4 linked regions of the Homo sapiens genome follow. The protein of the gene in region 2 purifies or fractionates together with the protein of the main gene of each other region. This does not show direct contact. Each region holds a gene or a part of one and is shown on either strand. Other genes may lie near its edges. The genes, in order: ZC3H18, HNRNPC, SRPK1 and HNRNPR.

The links.
Region 1: the proteins of HNRNPC (region 2) and ZC3H18 purify together in Homo sapiens (affinity purification with mass spectrometry; 2 studies listed by BioGRID and IntAct, with this or other methods). This does not show direct contact.
Region 3: the proteins of HNRNPC (region 2) and SRPK1 fractionate together in Homo sapiens (co-fractionation; 3 studies listed by BioGRID and IntAct, with this or other methods). This does not show direct contact.
Region 4: the proteins of HNRNPC (region 2) and HNRNPR purify together in Homo sapiens (affinity purification with mass spectrometry; 3 studies listed by BioGRID and IntAct, with this or other methods). This does not show direct contact.

The regions. Positions count from the first base shown.
Region 1 is NC_000016.10:88,573,395-88,580,417, reverse strand, and holds part of ZC3H18 (zinc finger CCCH domain-containing protein 18), read right to left. Parts: intron 3,309-7,023; 5' UTR 3,295-3,308; coding exon 2,692-3,294; intron 1-2,691.
Region 2 is NC_000014.9:21,210,420-21,217,442, forward strand, and holds part of HNRNPC (heterogeneous nuclear ribonucleoproteins C1/C2), read right to left. Parts: intron 2,699-7,023; coding exon 2,541-2,698; intron 1,505-2,540; coding exon 1,391-1,504; intron 1,148-1,390; coding exon 987-1,147; intron 888-986; coding exon 804-887; 3' UTR 1-803. UniProt on the Homo sapiens protein: Binds pre-mRNA and nucleates the assembly of 40S hnRNP particles. Interacts with poly-U tracts in the 3'-UTR or 5'-UTR of mRNA and modulates the stability and the level of translation of bound mRNA molecules. Single HNRNPC tetramers bind 230-240 nucleotides.
Region 3 is NC_000006.12:35,918,099-35,926,069, reverse strand, and holds the start of SRPK1 (SRSF protein kinase 1), read left to right. Parts: upstream 1-4,971; 5' UTR 4,972-5,013; coding exon 5,014-5,026; intron 5,027-5,541; coding exon 5,542-5,602; intron 5,603-7,971. UniProt on the Homo sapiens protein: Serine/arginine-rich protein-specific kinase which specifically phosphorylates its substrates at serine residues located in regions rich in arginine/serine dipeptides, known as RS domains and is involved in the phosphorylation of SR splicing factors and the regulation of splicing.
Region 4 is NC_000001.11:23,313,272-23,320,294, forward strand, and holds part of HNRNPR (heterogeneous nuclear ribonucleoprotein R), read right to left. Parts: intron 5,427-7,023; coding exon of another isoform or gene 5,418-5,426; coding exon 5,212-5,417; intron 432-5,211; coding exon 282-431; intron 1-281. UniProt on the Homo sapiens protein: Component of ribonucleosomes, which are complexes of at least 20 other different heterogeneous nuclear ribonucleoproteins (hnRNP). hnRNP play an important role in processing of precursor mRNA in the nucleus.

The sequences.
Region 1 (7,023 bases), on a different chromosome or scaffold from region 2:
CTTGAGCGTGGACCTTCCACTCACTGCCACTTCACATTACAAAGGTTCTCACCTTCAATGTGCCCCGGGCAAGTAGGATTCCTCTACTGACTGGCTGCCCACTATGTGCCAGGCCCCAGGGAGATAGGGGAACCAGCCAGGTAGCCCCCAGTCTTAGGAAACATGTTCTTGGGAATAGGGGAAGCAGCAGGCAGAGACATATACATATACACACACACACACACACACACACACACACACACACACACACACACACACACAGATGAACCTGTGTCACGACAGAGAGGCAGAGGCAACAGAGAAACAGCCTACGCAAATGCTGAGGTTGACACATAAAGGATGGAGGAGCCTGAAACGCTGCTGGGCGTGGGAACAAGAGGAGACCACGGGGGCTCCTGGGGCAAGCAACCCAGGGGCCTGAAGTCAAATGTGCTCTTGTAGAGGCTGAACCCACCATTCACAGCACTGCCCACCTTGGTTAAAGGCCTGCTGCCCCCACAGCAGGAGCGGGCTCTGCTCCGCCCTGCCCAGTCACACTCAGCATGTGGCACAGCAAGGTCCACCTGTGCTGGTGTCCAGGAGCACAGACCTATGGGGGATGTGGGGCGCTGGAGGCAGTCTGTGCGGTGGAAGAAACCTGCCTCCCCGTTTGCCAAGGGAGCTGTGCTGGGGTTTCCACAGCAGCACTCCGTTTTCAACTGTGGGTCCCCTCACAAGACGGTGCCAGGCAGGGCAGGCAAGGTCTAGGTAGGCAAAAATGGCAAATGGGGTTTTTCTTCCATGTGCTGTGTCTAGGGGAAACCAGCATGTCCAGGCCCTTGGCAGCCAGGGCCATTCTCCAGAGCAGCTGGACCCATCTACCGCACCGCCCGCGCCCATGGTGCGGCACTGAGAACTCACAGTATGCTCCACAGACATGGCCTTTCAGGACCACTATGGGGACCCTTGATCCGTCTGATGAATCTCCCCCAAGACTTGAGGGTCTGCAGCCAGTCCTCTTAAGAGGAACTAGAGCACGCCAGAGCCCTGGGTGCAGGACCTGCTGCACTCCCAGTGGTGGTGCAGACAGGGCTGTTACCCCCAGGACACAAAAACTCAGTCTCATGGGCATCCTCAACCCAACCAGCTCCCCCAGCTGATGAACCTGAATCTCACCGTCTCTCCTTTCCCTCTGCCAGCCCTGGGGTAGGTCTCCTCTTGCAAAAAGCACTAGCTGAGGAGACCACTTCCTACACTTCGCTGCGGAAAGATGAAACATCTAAAATTCTCAGCTTGCAGGTGCACACACGTCCCGTAAAGTCACATGAGCAATACTTCAAACCCTATAAATTACTGAGCAGTGCCACAGAGAGCAGCGATGGCCGGAAAGTCATATCCAAACGTGCATTGAGAGCACGCACGCCAGCATGCTACTGGAGAAGCATGGCACCCGCCGGGCGTGGTGCCTCACGCCTGTGATCCCAGCACTGTGGGAGGCTGAGACGGCCGGATCACCTGAGGTCAGGAGTTTGAAACAAGCCTGGCCAACAGGGCGACACCTCATCTCTACGAAAAATACAAAAATTAGCCAGTGGTGGCGGGCGCCTGTAATCCCAGCTACTCAGGAGGCTGAGGCAGGATAATTGCCTGAACCTGGGGGTAGAGGCTGTAGTGAGCTGAGATGGCGCCACTGCACTCCAGCCTGGGTTACAGGGTAGACTCTCTCTCTCAAAAAAAAGGAGCATGGCATTCAAGGCAAACCGGCGGTTACACATCTAACTGGCAGCCTTTACCTGCCTCAACCCAGAGCATGACATCAGAGAGATACTCTCGGCAGACACTCTTCACCGCAATGACTCCCCATAAGCACAATCCCCTTCCCCAGGATCTTTCAAAAAAAAAACAACAAAAACCCAGTTCAGTTCAACTGCTCTGTCCCTTGCTCACCTCCTTTGAGTTCAATAGCTCCGGCAAGTATCACTCAGGAGGACTTTGGGGTGTTTCTCCCGAAACACTCATAGTTTTTCCAACGGCATCAACTGCTAAGAAAACCCCACCTACCCATACCTAGGATCATAGATAGTACTACCTTCCCCTCAACCTGAAGGCCACATTAATTTAATGTACAAAAAAGTGTGCTGGCTTTGTCAGAAGTTGAGGTGCCCACCACAGTCTTTTCAGGGATATGTCCAAAGAGGCCTGGCCCAGCTGGTGCCCTCTCCAGAGGTCAGGCTCTAGGACCAGCATAAAAATGCCTAAAACATCCAAAACCAGATGGAAAATTTCCTCATTCTTTTCAGTCCAAAAACCTGACAAGAGTGGAAACCCACGTGGTTTCTGGTTGAGTGTTAACTTGAGTATCACTTGAAGACGGCAAAGACAAGGACAGACATTAACCCTTCATTCCTAGAACCTAAAAACACTGGGCGCTGGACCTTTCACTACAACCCAAACAATCCCACCAGCTGGCCGGCCGAGGGCCACGGAAACCCTGCTGGCAGCTTCTGGAGCTGCCTCTGCTCATTCTCGATTTCTGGCTCTTTCTCTCCAATCACTATGGGACTGAACCCAAAACAAGCCTCTCATTCTCCTGCACCATCCCTAGTAACAAATCACTAAGTCAGTCCCACACAGAGTCCCTCCTTTCCAGCACCAGTCTATGTCAGGCTGCTGGGCAGGATGCCCCGCGACGCTCTGCTCCATCATACTCACGTCTATTTCCCCATCATCGATTTCTCCATCATCGTCCTCTTTCTTTTTCTCCTTGGCAGCCTCCAGGGATTCCTTTTCTCCCACACTCTGAACACCAGCCTTCCCCTCCTCCCTGGGAGTGCCTTCGCCTTTCTCCTCATCATCCTCAGCCCCCGCTTTCTCAGCCTCGTCCTCCTGGACGGCGGGAGCTGGCTCCTCAGGAACCTCCTCATCGTAGTCTAGCTCATGCTCATCCAGCTCCCTGGTGACTGAGGAGGCCTCATCCCTAAGGTCGCTTGTCCGGTCTTCCTCCCCTTCGTCCCCCTCCTCCTCGCAGGGGGAGCTGGTCGGGCCCCGGCTCAGCTCATTCACCTCTGAGTCCTGGTCTTGGGATTTAGGCTCACTTGCCCGGTCCTCCTCGTCGGAGTGATTATCTTCCTCCTCCTGGCTCGGCCCCCTGGCTGCACTTTCCTCATCCTCCAGATCAGAAGCCCTCACCCCCGCCCCGTCCAAATCCTGATCGGACCCGCTGTCCCTCAGAATGTCATCGTCCGAGAGTCCCTGTGGCTGCTCTTCATCCTCTGGAGAGTGAGGATCCCGTTCAGGGCTCTCGGCCACATCCATCGGTACCCACGGTTCTGCAAAAGAGAGAATACAGATTGACAGCCTTTAGCAAAATGGAAAACAAACCTTGTCCCTACTTTCCTGGCCTGAAGCAGCAGGACTTCCATCCTGCTTGGTCCCACACGGCCCTGCCCCAAATCCCACACTCCACTCTGCAGAGAAAGACAGGCCATAACTCCACTCCACAAGGCTAGACTGCTCAGCTAAGCTGGGTGTTAAGTGCCTCCCGTTTTTGGCAATCTGGCAAAATGAGATGTGGCAGAAGGAGACGCAGCCTGGCCTAGCCCTTCCCCGCTCAAGGGCAGCCCACACGAGTTAACAGAAAGTGAGTAACGATACGGATCGCAAAGGACAGCTGTGTGAATTCTTAGAGGAGTATTTACTTTTGAAATTAAAGATAAACTGTATCATGGAACGAGGAAGCAAAACTGCAGGCCCAGATCTCACCATTTTTCTGGAGTCATCCTGAAGCAGGAACCTGGGCCAGCCTTCGGCAGTGTCCAAGTCTGGAGCCTTTTCTGTTACTGAACACACTTCTCGAAGGCCAGCCTCTGAGGGCCTCCGAGAATCCCTTGGCTGCCCTTTAGCAATGCAGGCTCAGAGCCCTGCCTGCGTGTTCACTGGCCCCTCCAGCAGGTGTCGAGAGGGCTGTGTTCACCCGCTCAGCAACTCACACTCCTAAGTTGAGAACCCCTCTTCCCATACAGGTAGCTGCTGTCGAAAAGAACTCTGGCAGGAAACTTGACACACTTAAGTACCGCGCGTATGTAAAAGACGAGGCTGGCCAGGTACGGTGGCTCGCATCTACAATCTCAGCACTTTGGGAGGTTGCAACGGGAGGATCATTTGAGCCCAGCAGTTCGAGACCAGCCTGGGCAACATGGTGAGACCCTGTCTCTGTAAAAAAAAAATACTAAAATTCAGGCCAGGCGCGGTGGCTCACACCTGTAATCCCAGCACTTTGGGAGGCCCGAGGCAGGTGGATCATGAGGTCAGGAGATCGAGACCATCCTGGCTAACACGGTGAAACCCCGTCTCTATGAAAAATACAAAAACTTAGCTGCACGTGGTGGCAGGCGCCTGTAGTCCCAGCTATTCAGGAGGCTGAGGCAGGAGAAAGGCGTGAACCCAGGAGGTAGAGCTTGCAGTGAGCTGAGATCGCGCCACCGCACTCCAGCCTGGGCGACAGAGTGAGACTCCGTCTCAAAACAAAAACAAAAACAAACAAACAAACAAAAACTAAGTCACAGAGTGTGGTGGTGCGTGCCTATATTCCCAGCTACTTGGGAGTCTGACGCAGGAGGATCGCTTAAGCCCAGGAGGTGGAGGCTGCAGTAAGCCAAGACTGCATCAATGTGCTTCAGCCTGGGCAACAGAGTGAGACCAATCTCCAAAAAAAACTCAAAAAACAAAAAAAGACGGGGTCACTTCAGACTTCATTCCTATTTTTACTAATCCAGATTAAATTATAAAGTTAATATTTTCGAGTTTCCCTCCTCAAAAACTCATAGAAAGTACACTGCTACCCATGCTTTAAAAGTGGACGGTGTTAAGACGGGTAGGAAGGTGTAGAACGGCAACACCTGCCTGGCAAACACTTGCCACACCACCACTACCAGGGCAGCTAGTCACCACCAAGTGAGTGTGGAGCAGCAGGGACAGTGCCAGGTCAGCGGTCACTTGACTGTTCAGTCTGTGAGGCTGTTAAAATAACGTATGTCACGGTCACACTGCTCGGCATCTCGGCAAGGTCTGGAAACAGATTATTCATCTCAAGATAACTACGGACGCAGCAAGTCATACACATACACATTTATATGTCTTGTATCTCAAATAACCATACACACTAAAGATAAAAATATTCATCTTTTAAATTTATACTTTTAATACAACCTGTTTAAAGATGCACAGTATCAAGAATTGGTATCAACCTACAGTTAAACATTTTTTTTTTTTGCTGTTAATGGAAATCATTAAGATTAAGTACACATTAGAGGCCGGGCACGGTGGCTCACGCCTGTAATCCCAGCACTTTGGGAGGCCGAGGCGGGTGGATCACGAGGTCAGGAGATCGAGACCATCCTGGCTAACACGGTGAAACCCCGTCTCTACTAAATATACAAAAAATTAGTCGGGTGTGGTGGCGGGTGCCTGTGTTCCCAGCTACTCGGGAGGCTGAGGCAGGAGAATGGCGTGAACCCAGGGGGCGGGGCTTGGAGTGAGCCGAGATCGCGCCATTGCACTCCAGCCTGGGCGACAGAGCGAGACTCCGTCTCAAAAAAAAAAAAAAAAGATACATTAGAACAAATTGGTCAGGTGCGGTGGTTCATGCCTGTAATCCCAGCACTTTGGGAGGCTGAGGTGGGCGGATCACTTGAGTCCAGGAGTTCTAGACCAGCTTGGGCAACATAGCAAAACCCCATCTCTACCAAAAAAAAAAAAAAAAAAAAAAAAAATTAGCTGGGTGTGGTAGGGCACCTGTCGTCCCAGCTACTTGGGAGGCTGAGATAGGAGGATCACCTGATCCTAGGAGGTTGAGGCTGCAGTTCAGCCTGGGTGACAGAGTGAGACCCTGACTCAAACAAAAAACAAAAAAGCCAAAAAAACCCAAATCTGGCCAGGCGTGGTGGCTCGCGTCTGTAATCCTAGCACTTTGGGAGGCCAAGGCAGGTGGATCATCCGAAGTCAGGAGTTCAAGACCAGCCTGGCCAACATGGTGAAACCCGGTCTCTACTAAAATACAAAAATTAGCTGGGCATGATAGCAGGTGCCTGTTATCCAAGCTACTTGGGAGGCTGAGACGAGAGAATCGCTTGAACCTGGGAGACAGTGGTTGCAGTGAGCCGAGATCACACCACTGCACTCCAGCCTAGGTGGTGGCTAAGCGAGACTCCGTCTCAAAAGAAAATTCAAATCATTTAAAATTCATCACTTTATAAAAACTAAATGGGCCAAGGGTGGTGGCTCACGCCTGTAATCCCAGCACTTTGGAAGACTGACGCGGGTGGATCACCTGAGGTCAGGAGTTCAGGACAAGCCCGGTCAAAATGGTGAAACCTTGTCTCTACTAAATATACAAAACATTAGCTGGGCATGGTGGTGGGCATCTGTAATCCCAGCTGCTCGGGAGGCTGAGGCAGGAGAATTGCTTGAACTCGGGGGGGCGGAGGTTGCAGTGAGCCAAGATTGTGTCATTGCTCTCCAGCATGGGCAAAAAGAGCAAAACTCCGTCTCAAAAAAAAAAACCTAAATGGTTAGCAATAACATAGATTTACAAACCAACCAATCCATTCCAAGTCACTTAAAAGCAGACAGTTCTGAAAATGATTCACTTTTTGGTTTTCTAAGTACACTATTCGGTTACTATCCAGAGACAGGACTACTGGGAGGAATTATTAAAAAGTCAGTCCTAAGCCAGGAGTGGTGGCATGTACCTGGAATCCCGGCTACTTGTGTGGTTGAGGTGGGAGAATCACTCGAGCCCAAGAGTTCGAGTCCAGCCTAGATAACATGGTAAGACCCTCGTCTTTTTATTAAAGGTAGTCCTAAACTGGTATACACTGCTGAAAATGGGAAAGTCAAGGAGCTGATCCCCAAACAGTATCACAGGGGCGCTTGATGCACAGAGCATTTCTGCAGCCCAAGGCAACAAAAGCAAGGATGAAAAGCACCAAGGCTGCTAAGGCCTCTACGCACTGACTGTTCAAGACTGGGAGTCTGCGTGGGGTT
Region 2 (7,023 bases):
TTGGTATGCATCATGATTATGACTCCAAGAAAAATATATCTAGTGCATTCTAGAGGTTTTGTGGAGGACGCTGTAAAACAAAGTTTGAAGTAAACAATAATAAAATACAAAAATAAAAAACCAGGGTTTTTTTTTTCTCCAAATTCCTGGTTTAATAAGGACTTGTTTATTTTGAGGAAAAAAGGTCCCAAACATCAGGCTGTTCACAAAAATAACCCACAGTATCAACTTTAGAAAACAAATCTTAAGACTATAACACTAATTATTTTTCTAGAGGATGCATTTGACATGCCAACTCTCATTCACAAAAATACATTGTTACATTTGTGTTGAACTGCCCCACACAGCACACTAATGTGAGGGTGTAACACACATACTTCTAACTCAAAGCTGCTTTCAAGAGCTACTCAACTAAATGAGATTGCCTTTGCAGTTAGGGAAGCAACTACTGAACTTATGTATGAATGAAAAGAACTGTACTCCCTGCATAACAAGAGATTATTTTGGAGACAGTTGATAAAAACCATACATCCTTTTTATTGTTAAGTCATAAAGAGGTATCAAAATTAAAAGCAAAAATTACAGGGTAAGACTTAACAAAACTACTAGGAGCGTCAAAGGAAGTGAAAATGGGACTAGGCGCGGGGCAATATGAATTAATGAACATGGGAAGGACAAGGATGGGGAGAACAGTGAGCATGTGCTGAAGATACTAGGGGAGAGGATCTGGTGAAAAATTTGATCTTAGACAAGCGCCTAGGTAAAGAAATAATGGGATAAGATTTCTAAACCCCACTATGTGCTTAAGAGTCATCCTCGCCATTGGCGCTGTCTCTGTCATCCTCTCCTTCCTCAGCCTCTTTTTCATCATCCTTGATCAACTCCAGCTGTGAGAAACAGACACAAACAGGATGGAGTTAGAGGCACTCCATGTGTCCCTGAGCCCCCCTCCACCACCTTTTTCTTTCCTTTCCCGTGGTTTTCACCTGGTCATCCCCCCGATCTTCATTATCATCATCATCCAGTAGGTCCCCCTCCTCAGCAGAGTCATCTGCACCCCCCTCAGACTCCATCTTCACATTAGTCTCATCTTTCTTCACGGAGCTGCTGCTCTGCTCCTCTTCTGACTTATCATTCTTCATCTCTACTGCGGATGAGAAGGACAAGTCTGTCTAGGGGCAGTAATGTCCACAGGACGTAGACAATCCCCACTAAGGATCACAGAACTGCAGCACAAATCTAAATCCTCCCACACAAATACCCTTCCCAATTCACACTCCCCAAGTTTCATATTACATTGCTTTATATTCCACTATTCCAACATGTACTTTCAAGTGCCTTATGTAACTAACCCAACTGTATACCAAGGGCAAGCAGAAAACCCATTTACCTGCTTGTTTGCTCTGTTCCTTTTCAATTTTTTCCAGGTTTTCCAGGAGAGAATCCACTTTTTGTTTTATCTGGGTCAGCTCCTTCTTAATGGCCTGAAGGTCATCTCCTTTCACTTTAATATAAACAAAATACTAGATTAAAATCAAATGTACCGAAGATATGAGTTAGCAAATACACTGCCACCAGACTACATCAGGAGCTCACAGGAGATACCCAGGGAGAAACAGAGCCAGTACAGATTTCTCGGTAATAAAGGCCCTTGGTTCTATTATAAAGCACGTTCTGTAATGGTTTTTATTGTTTTTAATGTCTTTTAGATCAGGGCTGTCGCTATGTTGACCAGGCCTGAGGACAGTGACTATTCACACGTATGATCACAGTGAACTTAAACTCCTGGCCTCATGAAATCCTCCCACTACAGCCTAGATCCCCAGGGTCTTAGCCTCCCCCTAAGCATCTGGGGCTACAGGCACGCACCACTGCATCAGACCTTCTGTAATGTTTTACTGCCTTCCATATTTCCAGTTACAGGAGGAGTTCAATATAGAAAAGTTAAAAAAAATCAACATACTGAACACTGTCTGAATTTTAGTTTTTAAATAACACAAAAAAATCTCAGGAACTTAACGCACACCTCAACTACATAAAGTCAAATGACATTTTTTAAATTACCTAGCTGTTGCAGTCTAGAATTGGCCACTCAATCACAATCTTGTCTCCTCTGTTATTTTGGATTTTTTTTTTTTTCTTGAGATGGAGTTTTGCTCGTCACCCAGGCTGGAGTGCAATGGCATGATCTCGGCTCACTGCAACCTCCGCCTCCTGGGTAAAAGCGATTCTCCTGCCTCAGCCTCCCAATTAGCTGGGATTACATGCACGCACCACCATCCCCGGCAAATTTTTTGTATTTTCGGTAGAGATGGGGTTCCTCCATGTTGGACAGGCTGGTCTTGAACTCCTGACCTCAGCTGATCCACCCGCTGGGCCTCCCAAAGTGCTGGGATTACAGGCATGAGCCACCACACACCCAGCCTCTTCCATTATTTTGAATACACAAAGTCATGTGGCACAAAAATATTGTAACTGCATTAGCTTCCCTATCTCAAAACACAAGAGATACCAAAATCACAAAATGAAATAATACATACACTTTCCAGACTTGGAAGATCCCCGCTGTCCACTCTTAGAATTGAAGCCACTTTTGCCCCTTCGTGAAGTGTTTCCTGATACACGCTGACGTTTCGAGGGCACTACAGCCCGAGCAATAGGAGGAGGAGGAGGTACACGTGCTGGGTAACTGTACATCCTATTGGATAAGAGGAAAATGGAATTCATTCAAACCTAACATTAACTCAGCACAATTCAACAGACCTTATGATAAATAGTAAGTGAATATTGTCTCTAGTCGTTTCCTTTTATTAAATTTCATTAAGAAGGCCAGCAAAAACCTCCACAGTGGGGTTTAGAAATCTTATCCCATTATTTCTTTACCTAGGCACATAAAATAGTTGTAATACTGTAGCAACTTTTCCTCAGGAAAATAAAACATATATCAAATTATATGGTTGGCTGGCCTTTGGCACTGGATATAAATGATTCCTCTGTACTAGTGTCAGTATTAACAGGGCATTTATTATAATGAATAGCCTTTGGATCTTATTATTTTCAAATATACATTACAATAAACAATTCACATACGGTCAAATACTCTTTAAAATGTTCCAATTAAAAGGGTATATAAACAGTGGTATATGGCATTAGCGAAATCTCTGATTCTTTTCACCCACAGAAGCACACGAATTATTACAACTAGTGATATAAGGTTGAACCATATAAAATTTCAGATCTATAAAATCAGGGCAATTTCATGTAACTGAGGGAATCATAGCAAAATGTGTTGGCTGGGTATAAATACTACTGATAAAAAATACCTCATATAAAAACAGGTAGTATCATTTCTAACTAAATTTACGCTTAATTCCAACAGGGCAGAGACCACTGTCTATCTTGTTCACTACTCACCTATGTCTAAATTCACTGGCCAGTACACACTTAGCACTCAATAAACACTGGTTGCTCAACTAATTGCTGTTTCTATTAGAAATCTTAATTTCAAATGTCTTAAACTTAGTATCCCAGTGATTGATAAAGATACACCAAAGCAGTGGCTTGGTACACTTACATTTGTAAAGAGAAAATTCAAAACAGAACAAAATACTTCTTACATGGACATCAGTTCTAAACTTTCTACATTCCACATTGTCATTTCCATATAAGAACCTATGGCAACGTATGAAAAGGTCTTCAATTCTGCAAGCTTTTTAAAAATGCAACTAACTTAATGCAAAGGCCCAGGTACTCTATAAAAATACACCTACCAACTGTTCTAACTCCAAATATTTCTTAAAAAACAAATGTGATAGTCAAGAACTTTAAAAATATTATTAATCACCTTTGTCATGATTCTCCCTCTTATATATATACAATAGTGGCAAGTTATTCTGAGTTGTAATATCTCCAATCTTCCTGTAGTGAAAACATTTACAAGATCTCATTGCTAATTCTCTCCTCTGTTAACTTAAAAGTGTTTCCACACTATTTCAACAAAGCAATGTTTAATCTTGTCCCAGGAGTGGCTATGGACAGGAACATTTTCCTAAATTAAAAGAGCAAGGAAAGCTGAGATGGAAAGACAGGTTGAGCCCAGGAGGTGAGAGAACCATGACTGCACCACTGCACTCATGCGGAACAGAGCAACACTGTCTCAAAAAAAAAGAAAACAGAAAAAAGTTTGCATTTCCCCTAAGTATGGTTAATCTCTTAGTTTAATCCATTCATGGGAATTAATGCAAAGAAAAAGATACTGAGTAACTTTTTATTATCACTACTTTCCCATTTTGACATAAAGCTTTTGGTCTTTTTGACCAAAATCTTGCAAAGTATAATGATACAGAAACTATAAAATATCAGTGTTCAGAAACTCATATCCTTTGTGAGAGATGGTAACACTTGCACAAACACAAATTGCTTAACGACAATTTCTGGAGGTGAATCAAAATAAGTTATCCATATCCATGAGCATTAAACTGAGCTTAAGCCTCAGTCCAATGGAAATAAATATCTAATCTACCTCCTAAGCCACAAACCTTCACCGGCACCCGTATCTAAACCAATGAGCTAGCTAGCTAGTTCTGTACTATCACTGGAATTTCTTTTTAAAACCTACTATTTCGTCTGACCACAGCCAAAATAAAGCAAGTAATACAGTTTTGTTTTGAATCTATGTAACAGTCTCATGAACACAATTAGGAGTCAAATTCTCTACTTTTCTGAAGAAAAATATTTCAAAATATTTCAGCCAGTTAAGGCTTTTAGTTACACAGAATGCTGCTCAGGCAGAAATGGACTCTCATTCACATCTGAGGAAGTAGTCCTTGCCTCGAAAAATGTTGAGGACGGTAAGTGTGAAAATAGAAAAAAAACATACATAGTGTGACAACCTTTAAGTTAAAAGGGATATATATTAAGAAGCTCAGTATGACTACTTCAAGCACCAGCTAAAAATTAAGCGGAAATTCTCACTATGAGAAAGCTATACAATAGATGAGGCAACAATAGCTGATTACTTACTGATTAAGGCTAGGCTGTTTAAAATCTTTTACCAGGGGAACAAGGACTAAACCCTAGGAGAATTGTAACTGCACCCATAATCAAACTTGATGGTGTTGGTATAAAATCTAGTCAGATTAAGAAATTAAAACACTCTAGAGACATTAATCACCTGAACAGATTAAGACAAAATACACCAGCCAGGTGTGGAGGCTCATGCCTGTAATCCCAACATTTTGGGAGGCGGAGGCAGGTGGATCATGAGGTTACGAGTTGAGACCAGCCTGACCAACATGGGGAAACCCCGTGTATACTAAAAATACAAAAATTAGCCGGGCATGGTGGCACACGCCTGTAATTCCAGCTACTCAGGAGGGCTGAGGCAGAAGAATTGCTTGAATCTGGAAGGCAGAGGTTGCAGTGAGCTGAGATCATTCCACTGTACTCCAGCCTCAGTGACAGAGCAAGACTCCGTCTTAAAAAAAAAAAAAAGAAAGGAAGAAAGAAAGAAAAGGAAAAGAAAAAGAAAAAAAAAACAACAAAACACACCAGCTGGATGCAGTGGCACACCTGTAATCCCAGCTACGCAGGAGGCTGAGGCACGAGAGTTGCTTGAACCCAGGAAGGAAGTGGGGGTTGCAGACAGCCATTGCACTCCAGCCTGGGCGACAGAGTAAAAACTTTTGTCTCCTCCACCACCAAAAAAAAAAAAAAAAAAAAAGACAAAGAATGTCTACCCCAATTCCAAAGTAAAAGCATTACAAGACATGTACTAAGAAGAGGTTTTCAAAGGGAAGCTTCTTAAATGGAAATTCTGACCATAAGACATTAGCTGCAAACAGTGACATTTCCTGGGTCTCAAAAAACCTAGTAATACATGTCAACACTACACCAGAGTAGACGTTAATCTATTAATAATAAAGCTATCATTTGGTACATGGACCATTTAATGGACCACAGCTGATTCTCATCTTAAAAATGTGAACAGATTGAAATAATCTGTTTTGCCGGACAGGGTGGCTCACACCTGTAATCCCAGCACTTTGGGAGGCTAAGGCGAGCGGCTCATTTGAGGCCAGGACATGGAGACGGGCCTGACCAACATGGTGAAACCCAGTGTCTACTAAAAATAGAAAAAATTATCCAGGTGTGGTGGCACATTCCTATAATCTCAGGTACTCCGGGGGCTGAGGGACAACAATCGCTTGAACCTAACAGGCGGAGTTCATAATGAGTCAAGATCCCACCACTGCACTCCGGCATGGATCACAGAGTAAGACTCCGTCACAAAACAAAAATTAAGAGAACCAAAGGAGCAGTTTTTTCCATTCTATCTCCAGTAAATACTAGTTAAATGAACTACCAACTGATGACAGACATCTGCCTCAAACTTAACTATGTAGATAAAAAAACTGATATAAAAAAGTTTAACACAGGTTTACATTAAAATTTAAATAACAATATGTCAAATTGTGACCGAAAACAATAAATCCGTTAAACTAGCTAGCTAGCTAGTTCCGTACTATCACTGGAATTTCCTTTTAAAACCTACTATTTCATCTGACCATAGCCAAAATGAAGCAAGTAATAGTTCTGTTTTGAATCTATGTTAACAGTCCCATGAACACAATTAGGAGTCAAATTCTCTACTTTTCTGAAGAAAAATATTTCAAAATATTTCAGCCGGTGGGGCTTTTAGTTACAAAGAATGCTGCTCAGGCAGAAATGGACTCTCATTCACATCTGAGGAAGTAGTCCTTGCCTCAAAATGTTCGTAACATAGTTGGAATTCTTGATTTTGTGCTTAAAAATAAATCAACCAGCAAAATTTTTGTAGCTTGTGTTTTATTTCTAAACTGAAATCAATGATTTCTAATGTTATTTGCAAGTACTTCACCACAAACATGCTGTCTTAGTCTAGCATCAGTTTACCCGGATACTATCAACTGCAAGCACCACTCATTTAAAATATAAAACGACTAAATGGTAAACCAGTATGCTCATTTGCTCACCACTGGAGCT
Region 3 (7,971 bases), on a different chromosome or scaffold from region 2:
CCTGGGAGGCTGGCATGTATGGACTGCATCACCCAGGCTTCCTTGCCATTTAACTTCCAGCTGGGTTTTGTCAATGGTGAGGCACTCGTTTGAGAAGATGTGGGTCTTTATTTCCCTGCCCTCTCCCTGCAGGGCTCATTAAAGGGCACAGCTGCTGCCAGGCGGGCCTCTCTTACTACAGCTCTGTTATGGGTTGAATTTTGCCCCCCACCCAACAAAAGATATGTTGGAGTCCTAATCTCCAGTACCTCAGAATGTGTCCTTACTTGGAAACAGGGTCTTTCCAGAGGTAATCAAATTAAAATGAGGTTTTTAGGATGAAGCCCAATGCAGTATGACTGGTGTCCGTATAAAAAGGGGAAATCCCAACACAATGAGAGACAGATGCACAGGGAAGAGCATGTGGCGAGGGAGATGATGGTTACCCAGAAGGCAAGGAGAAGGGCCTGAAACACATTCTCTCTCACAGACCTCAGAAGGAACCAACCCTGCCAATACCTTGATTTCAGACTTCTAAGCCTGTGAGACAAGAATTTTCTATTGTTTAAGCTACCCAGTTTGTGGTACTTTGTTATGGCAGCCCCTGGAAAACTTTTTTTTTTTTTTTTTTGAGACAGAGTTTTGTTTTTGTTGCCCAGGCTGGAGTGCAGTGGCGCAATCTCGGCTTACTGCAACCTCTGCCTCCCAGGTTCAAGCGATTCTCCTGCCTCAGTCTCCCAAGTAGCTGGGATTACAAGCGCCCGCCACCATGCCCAGCTAATTTTTTTTTTTTTTTTTTTGTATTTTTAGTAGAGACGGGGTTTCATCATGTTGAACAGGCTGGTCTTGAACTCCTGACCTCAGGTGATCCACCCGTCTTGGCCTCCCAAAGTGCTGGGATTACAGGCGTGAGCCACCGCGTCCGGCCCCTGGCAAATTGTTAATAATAAACCTCTCCCTGGGTTCTGATAACACCTCCATCCTCTTCTCCCTTCAGGCCTAGAGATGGTAAAAACTCCAGCTGTTGCTAGTCCCTGGATGTCTAACTATCCCTTGTTTGTTTTCCTTAACACCTTTATTCCTTCATTAAATTCTCTTCAATTAGCCTTTAAATGTGCCATGTGTTTCCTGATACCCAGGCCTATAATATGTAGATTTTCCCAATATAATTCACAAAACCATGTATCCAAAAGGTAAGAGAAAGTTTTTTTGGGGTTTTCCAATTATGCAGACAGCTATTGGAAATCTTAACTCATTCAAAATAAATCATCTCATGTATTTTCACTTTCTCCTGTTGTCCATTTCATCTCGCAAGACGTAGGGGAGGCCATAAAGGGATGTGTTGCTTTGGATTTAAGTCAGATCAAAACTTTAGACAAAGCATAATAATTTGTGATAATCAAGGCAGACAATGTTGGGTATGAAGAAACGTGTGAACTCAACTTTAGACGTTCAGATTTCTAAAATGTCAAAGAAGTATTAGAGAAGATTCCAGGGAGTCTTAATAAGTAAGTTAGCTCAAAAGGGATAGGATCTTTTCAGAAATTAAATTCTGAGACTACCATGAGCAGCCAAAAATATGATGGGTTATGGTTTCCGAATACCTCTACTTTTAAAGGGACTTGCAGGAAAAAAATAGCTGATGGAGAAGGGGTATGCATGTAAGAATGAATAGCTACCACTTTTTTTGTGTCTTTCTTTTTTCCTTTTTGTGCAGAAAAGGGTCTTGCTGTATTGCCCAGGCAGGTCTCTAACTCTTAGGCTCAAGGTATCCTCCTGCCTCTGCCTCCCTAAGTGTTGGGATTACAGGCATGAGCCACTGTGCTTGGCCTACACTTTTTTTTTTTTTTTTTGCTAACACTTTTAAGAATAGTTTCTGGGGAGCCTAAGGGGGGCAGATTGTTTGAGCCCAGGAGTTCCAAACCAGCCTGGGCAATGTGGCAAAACCCCATCTCTATAAAAAACACAAAAATCAAGTGGATATGGTGGCATGTGCCTGTAGTAGTTCCAGCTACTGGGGAGGCTGAGGTGAAAAAATTGCTTGAGCCCGGGTTGCAGTGAGGAAAGATTTCGCCACTGCGCTCCTGCCTGGGTGACAGAGTGAGACCCTGTCAAAGAAAAAAAAAAATTCTGGAAAGTTAAAAGTCCAGAATAGGCCAAGCTCTGCAAACTTGGGAGAAGAAACTATTTTTAAAGTTACATTTCAAGCAAAATGCACAAAAAGGGGATGGTTGTAGAATAGGGGAAATGAACAAACGTGCTTACATGAACAGTTATAGAGGTCTTAGAAAAAGTGGAGAGCCAAAGCATGATGGAGGAATAGAGAAAAACAGATGGAAAAAAAAGAGAAATGGTCAATTCTGGGAACTCAGTCCAGTGAACTTCACATTGACTCTGGAAAAATTCTGAAAACGAGTTATTAAACAGATGGTTAGTAAGCTCTTAGAGAAGCAATAGCCTACTCAGAGTCAGGATAGGTACGACTGTATCATGCCAAGCTGAACATATTTCCTTTTTGATGGGTCTGCAATAACCAATTCAGATTTAATACAGCTCTAATATTGTCCCTCTCAGTGTTTTCTCTCTCTTTCATCCTGACATTTCTCATAAACTGCAGATCATTTATTCTTTTTTTTTTCTTTTGAGACGGAGTTTTGCTCTTGTTGCCCAGGCTGGAGTGCAGTGGTGCAATCTCGGCTCACTGCAACCTCCGCCTCCCGGGTTCAAGCGATTCTCCTGCCTCAGCCTCCCAAGTAGCTGGGATTACAGGCATGTGCCACCATGCCCGGCTACTTTTGTATTTTTAGTAGAGATGAGGTTTCACCATGTTGGCCAGGATGGTCTCGATCTCTTAACCTTGTGATCTGCCCGCCTCGGCCTCCCAAAGTGCTGGGATTACAGGCATAAGCCACTGTGCCTGGCCCATTTATTCTTTTATTAGACAAATATATGAGCACCTACTAAGTGCCTAACACTGTGTAGGCACTGAGTTTACATCAAGGAAAACCTAAGCAGGGTCTCTACACTCAAACAGTTTACTTTGGGGTGGGCAGTACTTTCCCAATTCTGGGATTTTTCCTAGCTATCAGCTCTCTCCCTGTCTTTTCTAAACCACACGCGGTTATCCTGAACTCACACAACCCTCAGAGTCTAGGGCTTCCCTGTCTGTCCTAACCTTCCTTTTGTTTTCAACTTTACAGCAGGGAATAGACTGGGCTGCATCCTTCCTTGGCCAACAGGTACTGTCTTCTTTTGCAATATACTCAGACATGCTATCATTCAGGTTCCATGCAACATATATCAATTATCTAAATTTCAAATTTGGCTAACCTGCCTTTCCAGCCTCACCTTCCATTTCATCCCTTCAGTTGTTACCAGCCCCAATCCTAGCCCCCACCTACAGGTGTCCACGTCTGTGCCTTTTTGCTCAATGTATTTTCTCATTCAGGAATGCCTGACATCTCCTTCTCCACCTATAGAAATCTTACATATTTCCTAATACCCAGCTCAAAAACTGCCTTCTCTGGATGGGCTTAATTACTTACTTTGCTCAATAAGTTCTGCCAAAGCCCCCATGCTTGACTTGTGCTGTACTATTGCCCTCTCATCTTCCCTTCTCAATTACTTGTTCAGAGCAAAGGTCTTCAGAGCTTCCACTCTGTCCAGCTGCGGTACTTTACAACATGGGTTGGTAAACTAAGATCTGAAATAAGAATAACCGTTGAAACGGTTGAAAAAAGATCAAAAGGGCCTGGCTCAGTGGCTCACACCTGTAATTCCAGCACCTTGGGAGGCTGAGGTGGGAGGATCACTTGAGCCCTGGATGTCCAGGCTGCAGTGAGCCGAGATCATGCCACTGTACTCCGGCCTAGGCAGCAGAGCAAGACTGCTCTCTCTGTCTTTCTTTAACCCTCACCTTCCCTTCAAAACCTAACAAAGACCATGTTTAAATCAATAGAAGAACATTTTATGACGTGAAAATTATATGAAATTCAAATTTCAGTGTCCATACATAAATCTTTATAGGAACACAGCCCATATTTTCTATGACTGCTTTTGAGCTCCAATGGCAGAGTTGAGTAGCTGAGAAAGAGATCTTATGGTCCACAAAGCCTAAATATTTACTGTACGGCCCAAAGAAAAACTTTGCTGAGCCTGCTATACAATAAGGGCTTCATGATTAAATAACTGGGTCGTACACCAAGATTCTGAACATATAGGCAGGCCCTCTTAAGTTTAGTGTCTTTGTGTAATGGAAGTAATAACTATTTTGCCTTTAAGTTGCCATAAACATCAAATGAGATAATGCACTTAGAAAATAAAAACAAAAAAAACTTATAAACAAGACAGCTTTATCATGTATTGAAGGTGGTAGAATAAGAAAACATTAAACGTTTTTATTCTCATTTCCCCTTCTTTCCTTTACAGCTTTCACTTAAACTTGAAATTTCAAGAGAAAATTCACTTTTGAAGTTTTTACTTTTCAAGTGATAATAGGGTCACAGGTTCTTTCCTTCCAGTCTTTTTGTGTTGCTCCCACTCCCTTTTCTTTCTCACATGTAATTTTTTTCCATTTTCTTTAAATAGTATCTCAACTGGGCTCACAATAGCTCAGGGAAGGAGAAACTGGGACATGCCTGATTAATCCATTTTACAGGCCAGGAAACTGAGGCAGATCCCAGTTGCCTCCGAAGCTCTGACTCAGCAGCATGCAGAGAGCCCTGCCGCTCTCTGCGCCTTTTCTAAACAAATAGAACAAAACTAACCTTGCCAGGTTTCCAAGCTTGGATCTCTAACACTCCTTCAACGTTCACCCCGGCGTTCCTCCCCGCTGCGCCCCCTCCCTCTCCTTGCCGCCCCCTCCTCGGGAGCAGGTGGTAGGCTCCGCGCCCAACGCGCAAGCGCGCGGCATCGTGGGGCGGGGGTGGGGCGGGACTGAGGGCGGAGTGTGAGCGGGCTCGGTTTTGGGCCGCGGCGGGAGCGGGAGTCGCCGCCACTCGAGTGCGCAGGCGCCTGGCGATTACCGGTCTCACCATGGAGCGGAAAGGTGAGCGGTGGAGCGGCCTCCGCCACGAGGGGCAATGGTCGCCGGGGCGAGGCCCGGGTCAGCGCCGGGAGCTTCGCTTAACTGCCGCGGTTCGGTTCCCGGACGTGCGGCGCCCCTCCACTGAGGTGGCGCCGCCCCACACCCCCTGCCTCTGGGCTGCGGGTCCGCGCCCCTCAGTCCGGGCGTCCTCTGGCGCCGGCCGTAGCCGCCCCTTGTTCCCCGCCAGGCCGGCTCGCGCCTTGGGGCCACTCCAGGGCCCGGCCCTTGGCGGGCGACGCAGACCCCCACCCGCCCGCCCCCTGACCCGGCCTGAGACCCCTCCGGCGCATCCCGCCCGGGCGCTGCTCTGCGCCCCGTGGGCCGCCAGCCCCACGGCCGGCCGCCTCGCCGGAGCCCGCAGCCGCCCCCGAGGCAGGCCCCGCAGCCGGGCCTGGCGCCCCTGCTGGGTCTCCACCCTCACCTTGGTCGCCTCCTTTCCTCCACATTCGCCCTTCATCCATCCCTCTCTCCTGCAGTGCTTGCGCTCCAGGCCCGAAAGAAAAGGACCAAGGCCAAGAAGGACAAAGCCCAAAGGAAGTGAGTCTTGTACCCCAACATCCCATTCTTTGGATTTTCCTCCGGCACCTTCTCTGCTCTGGTTTCACGTCTTGAACGTGCACCGGGTTTGGGCACCCTGTGGCTGCAGCCACATGGCCTCGGGGCAGCTCGGAGGGTCGCTCTCCAGCAACCATGTGGAAGAGAGCTGCTGTTGCTCAACGCCAGGCCTGGGTCTTAGCAGCCCCGGGCCTGCTGGAAAGGGCTGTCGGAGGAGGACCAGAGCCCGCCCGGTACCTTTCCTCCCCAACTCCACAGAGGAGGCACAAACTCCCCTAGCTTGGACCTCCCCACCGGAGCTGGTAGATCATTATCGGTCTGTTTCTGAACTCTGGTCTCTCTTACCTGCTCCCCAACGTCTTAACTTGCCTCCGACGTCTTCACGGTAGGCCTTAAGGAAATTCTTGAATGAATTTTTCCGTGTTTACTTTGGGTTCTACCAACCACACACTCCCTTTCATAGAGGAGGGCATGGGGCTTTTCCCTGGGTTAGTCAACTTCCTGAGCCTGTAAGGCGTATCGGCTTTTTTGCAGTGTGCCGGCAGACCGCTGTGTATACAGTCGGTGTCTGTTAACTGCTTCTCTTCTGTCTAAACCTCAACCAGATGCAGATAATCTTCCGGAGTGGACATCACAATAGTAACGGGAGAGTTCTTTAACAAACATTGATGATTCTGGTTTGGCGTATTAAGCGCCACATGTCCAGTTTTATCAGTAGGATGCATAACAGTAGTTTAGTGCTATCGTGGCAAGTTCAAAAGTTGGTCACAGCCTAGTAGAAACTCAGGTAGCAGGCTTAGCAGCAAGTGAGGCTAAGCCTTAAGAACTTTCATCATGTACTAACGTTTAATTGCAAAGGATCTTGGAAATCAGCTCTTACACACTTTGTATTCAGAGAGAGCTTGTATGCCTAGTTATTAATACATCTTAATTTTAGATGTATTATCTTTATAGTTTTACATTTATTTGATGTTTTGTGGCATCGTATGCGGTCTAATTCCCTCTGAGCTGATACAACACATTTCAAAGGCCTTCCTAGGTCACCCCACTGAATGACAATACCAGATTAGGGGGGTGTAGGGGTGTGTGTTGTTTTTGGAGGCTACCTACTGTTTGGGGAGAGCACATAATGACTTCTCTCTTTCAATAGAACTAAAGTGGTAGGTGACCTCACCTCTTGCTCCATTTTCTCTTCTGTCTTATGAAATGTATTTTGTAAGTGCTTGGTGACGAAGTCTTGTAAATGAGAGTTTGTGTGTGTCTGTTTACCTTTGGATTATCCATATATGGGATTATTCAAAACCAGTTTTTAATCCTAGATCGTTTAATAGAAACAGCAAGGTGCTAACTTGGTTCTAGTGTGCAGTAGGACTTGAAATGTTACTTTTCTGTGCCTAGTTTAGTTATTCTTTGTGGAATTGATGAGAATGTGTTAAAACGTTCTTTTCTATTGATACAAGGAAGTTGCAGTTTTTATTATATTACTCTGTATTTTTTAGAAATCCTGGTCTCTCAGACTATTTGTCCAGATCTCTCTTACCACTTAGAAATTAATTTGAGATTAGCCCAAATCAAGCTGTAATTTGAGGGGTAAATGTATATAGATGATATACTTTAAGCACCAGAAATCTGTTACTTTCGATTATCTATTTAGACCATATGCTTTATTTCTAAAGTCAGATGTGTATCTGTTACCCCATTCACTACTATGGATAACTTAGAGTTATTTGTGTTAATTGTTTGCAAGTATGGATTATAGATAATCTAGCAGTCATTTTACTGAATATTTCATCTTGAACAACTTTGAATCCTGAAAATATGCGTGAATGAACTGCCCCCATTTCCTTGTAACTTCAGAGGTGTTTTATTTTTGGATTTGTTTCCAATTAATAAGTTTTTTTTGTTTGTTTGTTTTTGAATTTACCTACCTTTTTTTTCTTTTTCTTTTTGAGGCAAAAAGAAAGCCTGTTGCCCAGGCTGCAGTGCAATGGTGCGATCTCGGCTCACTGCAACCTCCACCTACCAGATTCAAGCAATTCTCTTGCCTCAGCCCCCCAAGTAGCTGGGACTACAGGCGTGTGCCACTACGCCTGGTTAATTTTTGTATTTTTTGTAGAGAGAGAGTTTCGCCATGTTGCCCAGGCTGGTCTCGAACTCCTGAGCTCAGGTAATCCGCCTGCCTCAGCCTCCCAAAGTGCTGGGATTACAGGCATGAGCCACTGCACCTTGCTCTTTTTCTTTCTTCCTTTTTGTCTTTCTTTCTGTCTTTCTTTTCTTTTGTTTGTATCCCAGCCTCCTTTTAAGTAGCTGAAATGTCTAATTAAGTTGGTTAGAGTACTGTGTTAGAAGTT
Region 4 (7,023 bases), on a different chromosome or scaffold from region 2:
TTTATACCTTGTAATACTTCCAAGGCATCATGCTATCGAATCTTACAAAACAATACAGAGATTAAAAATAACTTGCCTAAGATCACAAACTCAGTAATAACCTGGCTTTGAAATATGGAGTCTTATCTGTTACATACTATTACCACTTTACAGAGATTAAATAGAAAGAGTTCAGCAAAAGCTGACAACCAATATTGTTTCAGTTTTTAAAGTTACTTTGTGTTTGGCAAGTTTCAAAAACAAAATTCAAATATCAAGAACCAAAATTTCAAAATTCCTACCTTAACAGCTGCTCCTCTGTCTTCAAAATGAACAAATGCATAATCTTTCAACTTCTTTACTCTTTCGAGTTTTCCAAATTCAGAAAATGACTTTTCCAATATTTCTTCTGTCACCGTAGTAGCCAAGTTTCTCACAAACAAAACTTTTACCTAGTAAGCAACAAATAAACAAAACCGTCATTGGCTACTTAATTTTACCTGAAAAGTGTTTCTTCCTGTCTTCATAGCATAGCTTTTCTCCTCTAAAACATTAAGTGCTAAAAGTGTTGTTACAGGTAGTAAGAGAAATTGCTAGGAAAATGACACTGATATCAGTCACCAATTTACAAAAATTATTGGTTCCTGCCTTCTCCTATGTTGTCATTAAAGCACCTAACACTGAGTAGAACCTTCAAGGAACCAACACATAATTATTATTACCAAGTTAATCAACAAAAAGTCCCTTTCAAAACAAGTTTTTCTGTTTCTTTCCTCTAAAACTGAGTAACTTTCAAAAGTTCATATGAAAAAATAAATAAGCAAGAATAACCAGGAAAAAAAAGAGTGAAATTTAGAGGCTGGCCCTACCAAATATAAACAAACTATAATGCTTAAATCATTAAATCAGGTAGTGTTAAATTAGAAAAAAAGGAGAAAAGCTGGTCCATGCCTTACACTATACACAAGGATAAACTCCAAATAGATTGAAAATTTAAATAATAAAAGGGTGGAGGGAGGACTGTGAAATTTTAGAACAAGAATGATTCCTTTATATAACACTGGAGTGGGGATGACCTTATGACTTAAAATCTAGGAGCCATAAGAATGTTATACTCAACTACTAAAAATAAATGACTTCTATATGGCAAAAAAATACTATAAGCAAAGACAATAAATATGGATGAAAAATTTGCAACATGTATCACAAACAGCTAATCTCTCTTTTATATCAGAGCACCAGAAAATAACAAAAAGCTCAACAACTGAATAGAAAAATAGGCAAAATTCCTGAATACATGGTTCATACACAGAAACACATATGGCTCTTAAAATATATTTAAAGTTCAAACCATTCATAGTAAGAGAAGCAAATCATTAATCATTAATGGCACTGAGACATTTGTTATCAGGCTGGCAAAATTCAAAAGTTTGATTATACACTATTTTGTCAAGAATGAGGAAAATAATTCTCTTGTATTTTGCTGGTAGGAATGTAAAATAGTGTATCTCCTACAGAAAGGAATATGGCAGTATCTTAACAATTACAGATATATCTACCCTTTGGCCCACAATTCTACCCCTAAGAATCTATCCTACAGATATATCTCCACTTGTATCAACTAACATAAGCTTATTCCTTCCAGCACTGTAAGAGCAAAAGATTAGAAACAATATCCAGCTGGTTAAATACACTATAGTACCTCCACAGAATAGACTACTATGTAGTCATAAAAAATGAAGAAGAGGGCTGGGCGCGGTGGCTCACGCCTGTAATCCCAGCACTTTGGGAGGCCGAGGTGGGCAGATCACCTGAGGTTGGGAGTTCAAGACCAGCCTGGCCAGCATGGTGAAACCCTGTCTCTACTAAAAATACAAAAATTAGCCGGGCGTGGTAGGAGGCACCTATAACCCCAGCTACTCGGGAAGCTGAGGCAGGAGAATCACTTGAACCCGGGAGGCAGAGGCTGCAGTGAGCCAAGATTACACCACTGCACTCCAGCCTGGGTGACAGAGCAAGGCTCCGTCTCAAAAAAAAAAAAAAAAAAAAAAAAAACAAAAACCCAAAAAATGAAGAGGAGCTCTATGAGTTGTAGGATAGGACAACTTACAGTCAATGTGATAAGCAAGTACTGTGCCATAGTTTAGTTGGCAGTGTTTTTTAACTATTTAGTAGTACATATAGTAATGATGTATTTCCTCAGAGCTGATGAAACAGGATGGTGAATAAACAAAAGGTAGATCAGTGGATATGGTAGGCTACCAACATTACTACCACTCATCTAAGAATTAAGGAAGTATATCCATATTTGCCGAAGGAAATACTAAAAGGAAACCAGCAACTATTAAAACTGGATGCCTTATAGGAGACAAAGGGGATTTGGTAGACACAGGGATAGGGGTAGAAAGGAAATTTCTTTGTCTATACTTTTCTATATAACTTTTGAACTAAGAAAACATAGTACCTATCCAAATAAAAAACTAACATATTGAACAAATTGTTGCTTCAGATAAAGGGCTATCTAATAAGAAGATACTAATTTAAGGAGGAAAAAAACTAACATTTTCCACAAACGCTCCATCCCCTTTATTATTCTCAATTTGTCATACTAAGGTCCAGCCTCTATGTTACACAGACTCCCACTGGTTTAGTTGCTTTTTAAAAAAAATTCAACATGGACTTTTCTATGATGAAACGATAACATACTATGTGAAAATTACTTACTGAAATTGTGTTTAAAATGTTCAACAGGAAAAAGGGTCCCTTTAAGAGACATATATTTAGGCTTTTAGGTTATGGTACATTGTAAAACTGACCCAACTTGGCAAAAAAAATCTTCAGTGAATTGTAAATTGATAGTGTGAATAACAGAAGCTTTACTCAAATGGATAAACTTTTCTTTTCAATTAGGAAACAATAAAGGAGCTGGATGGGGTTGCAAGCACCCGGGAGGCTGAAGCAGGAGGGACGCTTAAGCCCAGGAGTTCAAGGCTGCAGTGTGCTATGACTGCACATGTGGGCAGCTACTGCACTCCAGCCTGGGCAACATGAGACCCCATCTTTTAAAAAAAAGAAACAATAAAGGGCTCCATAATATTTAATCCTAAGTTTATAGAGACCTCCTTTTCATTCTGAAACCTGTTTTAGATCTAGGAAAAAGGAGTTACCAGAATGAAATCTTGAAGTTTTCTAACCCTAAAAAAAGATTAGGATGAACTTCCATCTGAGCAGTTACTAAAGGTTATGTGAGAAGTGGCTGGTAAGCAAATTACAAGCTATACTTTTGGTTTTCATGGGATTTTATTCCTCTTTTATAATATTTTATTCCTCTATTATAATACATCTATAATACTATTTTAAAATATTTTTACAGAAAAAGTAATACAGGCTATACTTAGTTACTACAGGTAGATTCAAAGTTGTGGTGGATCTTAGAGATTGATCCAGGCTCAATAAAATAGATGACATTCATGTTCAGTAGTTTACCCAAAGTCATAGTTGTATTAGGAGAAGAAACAATAGGAATTAAAATCAAGCTAGTAAAAAATCAAAATAAAAACTCAGAGCTATTTAAATTCTCTATCCCTTTCCTAGACACCCATCTACTCAAGGAATATGAGATAAAAGATACTGAGTAGCACTTCTGAGAGCCTCTCTGGTTCATTCTGAATAGAACTTATCTGATTAACCCAAAGATGTCACTGCCAACCCAGACTTTATACAAGTATAAACCAGAGTTCTCCTCCAAACTACTTAGAACGAGGGTTTGCCTCCTCAAATTCTGGAATAAAAACCTTGACTTCTGACTTATCAAGAAGAATCCAACCATTAACTCATGGCCATTCAGAGTTGCTGCCTCCCTGTGAAGGGAAGAGACAACTAAAATGCTCAAGAGCTCATTGCAAGCAGCAGAAATGCAACTCTGAGGCCGGGCGCAGTGGCTCACACCTGTAACCCCAGCACTTTGGGAGGCCGAGGCGGGCGGTTCACAGGGTCAGGAGATGGACACCACCCTGGCTAACATGGTGAAACCCCGTCTCTACTAAAAATACAAAAAATTAGCCAGCTGTGGTGGCGGGCACCTGTAGTCCCAGCTACTTGGGAGGCTGAGGCAGGAGAATGGCGTGAACCCAGGAGGCAGAGCTTGCCGTGAGTGGAGATCGCGCCACTGCACTCCAGCCTGGGACAAAGCAAGACTCCATCTCAAAAAAAAAGAAATGCAACTCTGATGTGTCCCAGGAGTCGCCCAAAGGAAAACTTAAGAACCAGTACTCAAGGCACCACTATTAAGATCCTGGCAACGCAAGTACAGGAATCAGGAGGGAATTGAGGGCCCTTTACAGGACTTGCCATGCATATTTTGCCACTAACAAATAAGAGCAAACATGACAATCTTTTGCCTTTCTTCATGGGGACAATACACTAAGGGAATCTGATCATTTAAAAACAAGAGGCGGGGCACGGTGGCTCATGCCTTAATCCCAGCACTTTGGGAGGCCAAGGCGGGTAGATCATGAGCTTAGGAGTTCGAGACCAGCCTGCAATATGGTGAAATGCTGTCTCTACTAAAAATACAAAATTTAGCCGGGCATGGTGGCAGGCGCCTGTAGTCCCAGCTACTTGGGAGGCTGAGGAAGGAGAATCGCTTGAACCTGGGAGGTGGAGGTTGCAGTGAGCCGAGATCGTACCACTGCACTCCAGCCTGGGCAACACAGCAAGACTCTGTCTCAAAAAATAATAATAATAAATAAAATATTTTTAAAAATAAAAACTACAAAAAAAGCTTAAAAAAAGAAAAATTAGCTATAAATCTAAATAAAACATAATTCATGGCCAAGTAATAAAGTCATAATATAGTCAATGAAGATTATAACTTATAATCTCCAAAACATTACTTCTCTCTTTACTCAGGACTTTTAAAAAAAAAAAAAACCTCTATCCCTCACAGTGCCTAGCACTAAACAAACACCCAGTGTGTATGGGACTACTTAATTGAAGGAATTTCATTTCAGTTCCTTTTGCACATTTAATCTGCAGGAAAAGGGATTGTTAATGGAAATTCCTGGATACCAAGACAGGCTGTTAACTTTAGTGTTAAAGCCGCTCCTTGCCAAACAGTTGAAGTCTAAAGCTACAATTTCTATTTATCATAAAACTCAAAATATTTGAGCTTTATTCTGAGTACAAAATTTAAATGATGACCCTATGCCCATTCCAAGCAACTGTATTTACCTTAGCCATGACTTCTGGATCTGGTTCTTCCACAGGGTCAGCCCATTCAACTGTAACTACATTTCCCCACACTTTTACTTTTCCACTCATCAGCCGGCGTCTGGCTTGTGCTGCTGACTTGTGATCCTCATATTCAAGGAAGCAGAACCCCCGATTCTTCTTTTTGTCATCGGGTTGATGATAGAGAATAACGTCCACCAAACCCTCTGTTAAACCAACAGCCAGATATATAAGCCAAAAGCATCCACCACACATCTAGCGATTAGGCAGACCTAAATCCACTTGACGATGAGCAAAATATAAGTGAAGCAGCCTCAACATGAGTCACTAATTTTGTAGACAATTAGATCAACATAATTAGATATGGGGTTTGGGACAGTATTTGATGTTCCTTTTTAATTTTAGGGGTTCTGAAGGTACAGCCATATACAACAAATCTACTATATTCTGACATTTAACATGCTACAATGTTTTAGAGCGTTTGATATAACATGACTTTATTAAAGCACTAACAAGGATCTTAAAAACAAAATTAGTAATATAAACCCAAGAGAACTAACTTTTGACAACTAATCATGGCCAAAAATCTTCCTTGAAGCTAACTTAAAAGTTACTATTTTTACCAAGAATGGAAGTGATCACTAAATATTAGTGTTCCTCTGGTCTTAGTCCTTTGCCCTTATCTCTCCGTATGTGTTCTTTCTAAATAATGTCAGCTAGCCCTACTTTTAAATGTTACCTATACCCTTATAAATACTTAGATTTTTTTCCTACCCCAGACTTCTCTAAGCTCTAGATGTGCCTACGTTCTTACCCGATGTATCCTCTTTGATGTCTTAGACATTGCAAATTTAACTTTTCCAAAACTGAACCACCATGGCCAAAATCTGCCTTCCCTAGACTTCCTATCTAATAAACAGTGCCATCCACCTGGTTCTGAAGCCAGAAATTGGTTAGCCATTCTTGATTTCTTCCTTCATCTCTCCTATCCAATTCCAAACTCATTTACTTCTTTCTATCTCCACTGCTATTACCCTAGTCTAATCCTGTATCTGTACTAGTATGACAGCTTCAACTAATTTATCAGCTTCCACTCACACCCCTTCTCTCCAAGCCCCTATCCACAGAGCGCTAGGAATAATATCCCATAAACAAGAAATAGGTGTTATTTCCTGCTTAAAACCTTTAAATACCTTCTCATTATATATACAATAAAAACCCAACTCCTTACATGGCCTACAGAAGCCCTGCCTACTTCATTTCATACAACTCTACTCCTAATTCTACCTTTTAATAATACTGGCCTCCTCAGTTACTGTAATATACTGACTTCTTTCTTGCCTTGGAACCTTGGCACGTGTTGCTGTCTTGGAATGCACTTCCTTTTGCTCTTTGTATGCTACAACCTCTTCATCCTTCAGGTGCTGGTTGACATGTCATCTTATCAGAAAAGTCTTCCAAAACCATGGAAACAGGGATAGTAGCTATTCTCTAGCTAAATATCCTGTATTTCCTGCTTCAGTGTCTTATCACAATGTCTAAATATTCCTTTAATTTTTATTTTTTATATTCTTGGTCTTATCTCCTTTCTCAGGATATAGGATCTATGAAAGCAGAGAATATGTCTCTTAGCCATCAGTGTATCCCAGGCACATAGCACAATGCCAGCACTTAACAGGAACTTTAATAAACACCTGCTGAAAGAATGAATAAATGATCATGAAGCCAGAAGGAGCTATAGATAATAAAGTGATGAGGTCAAAGAACTGTGCCAGCAGTTGACAACACAATACTTGACAACACAATATAGCG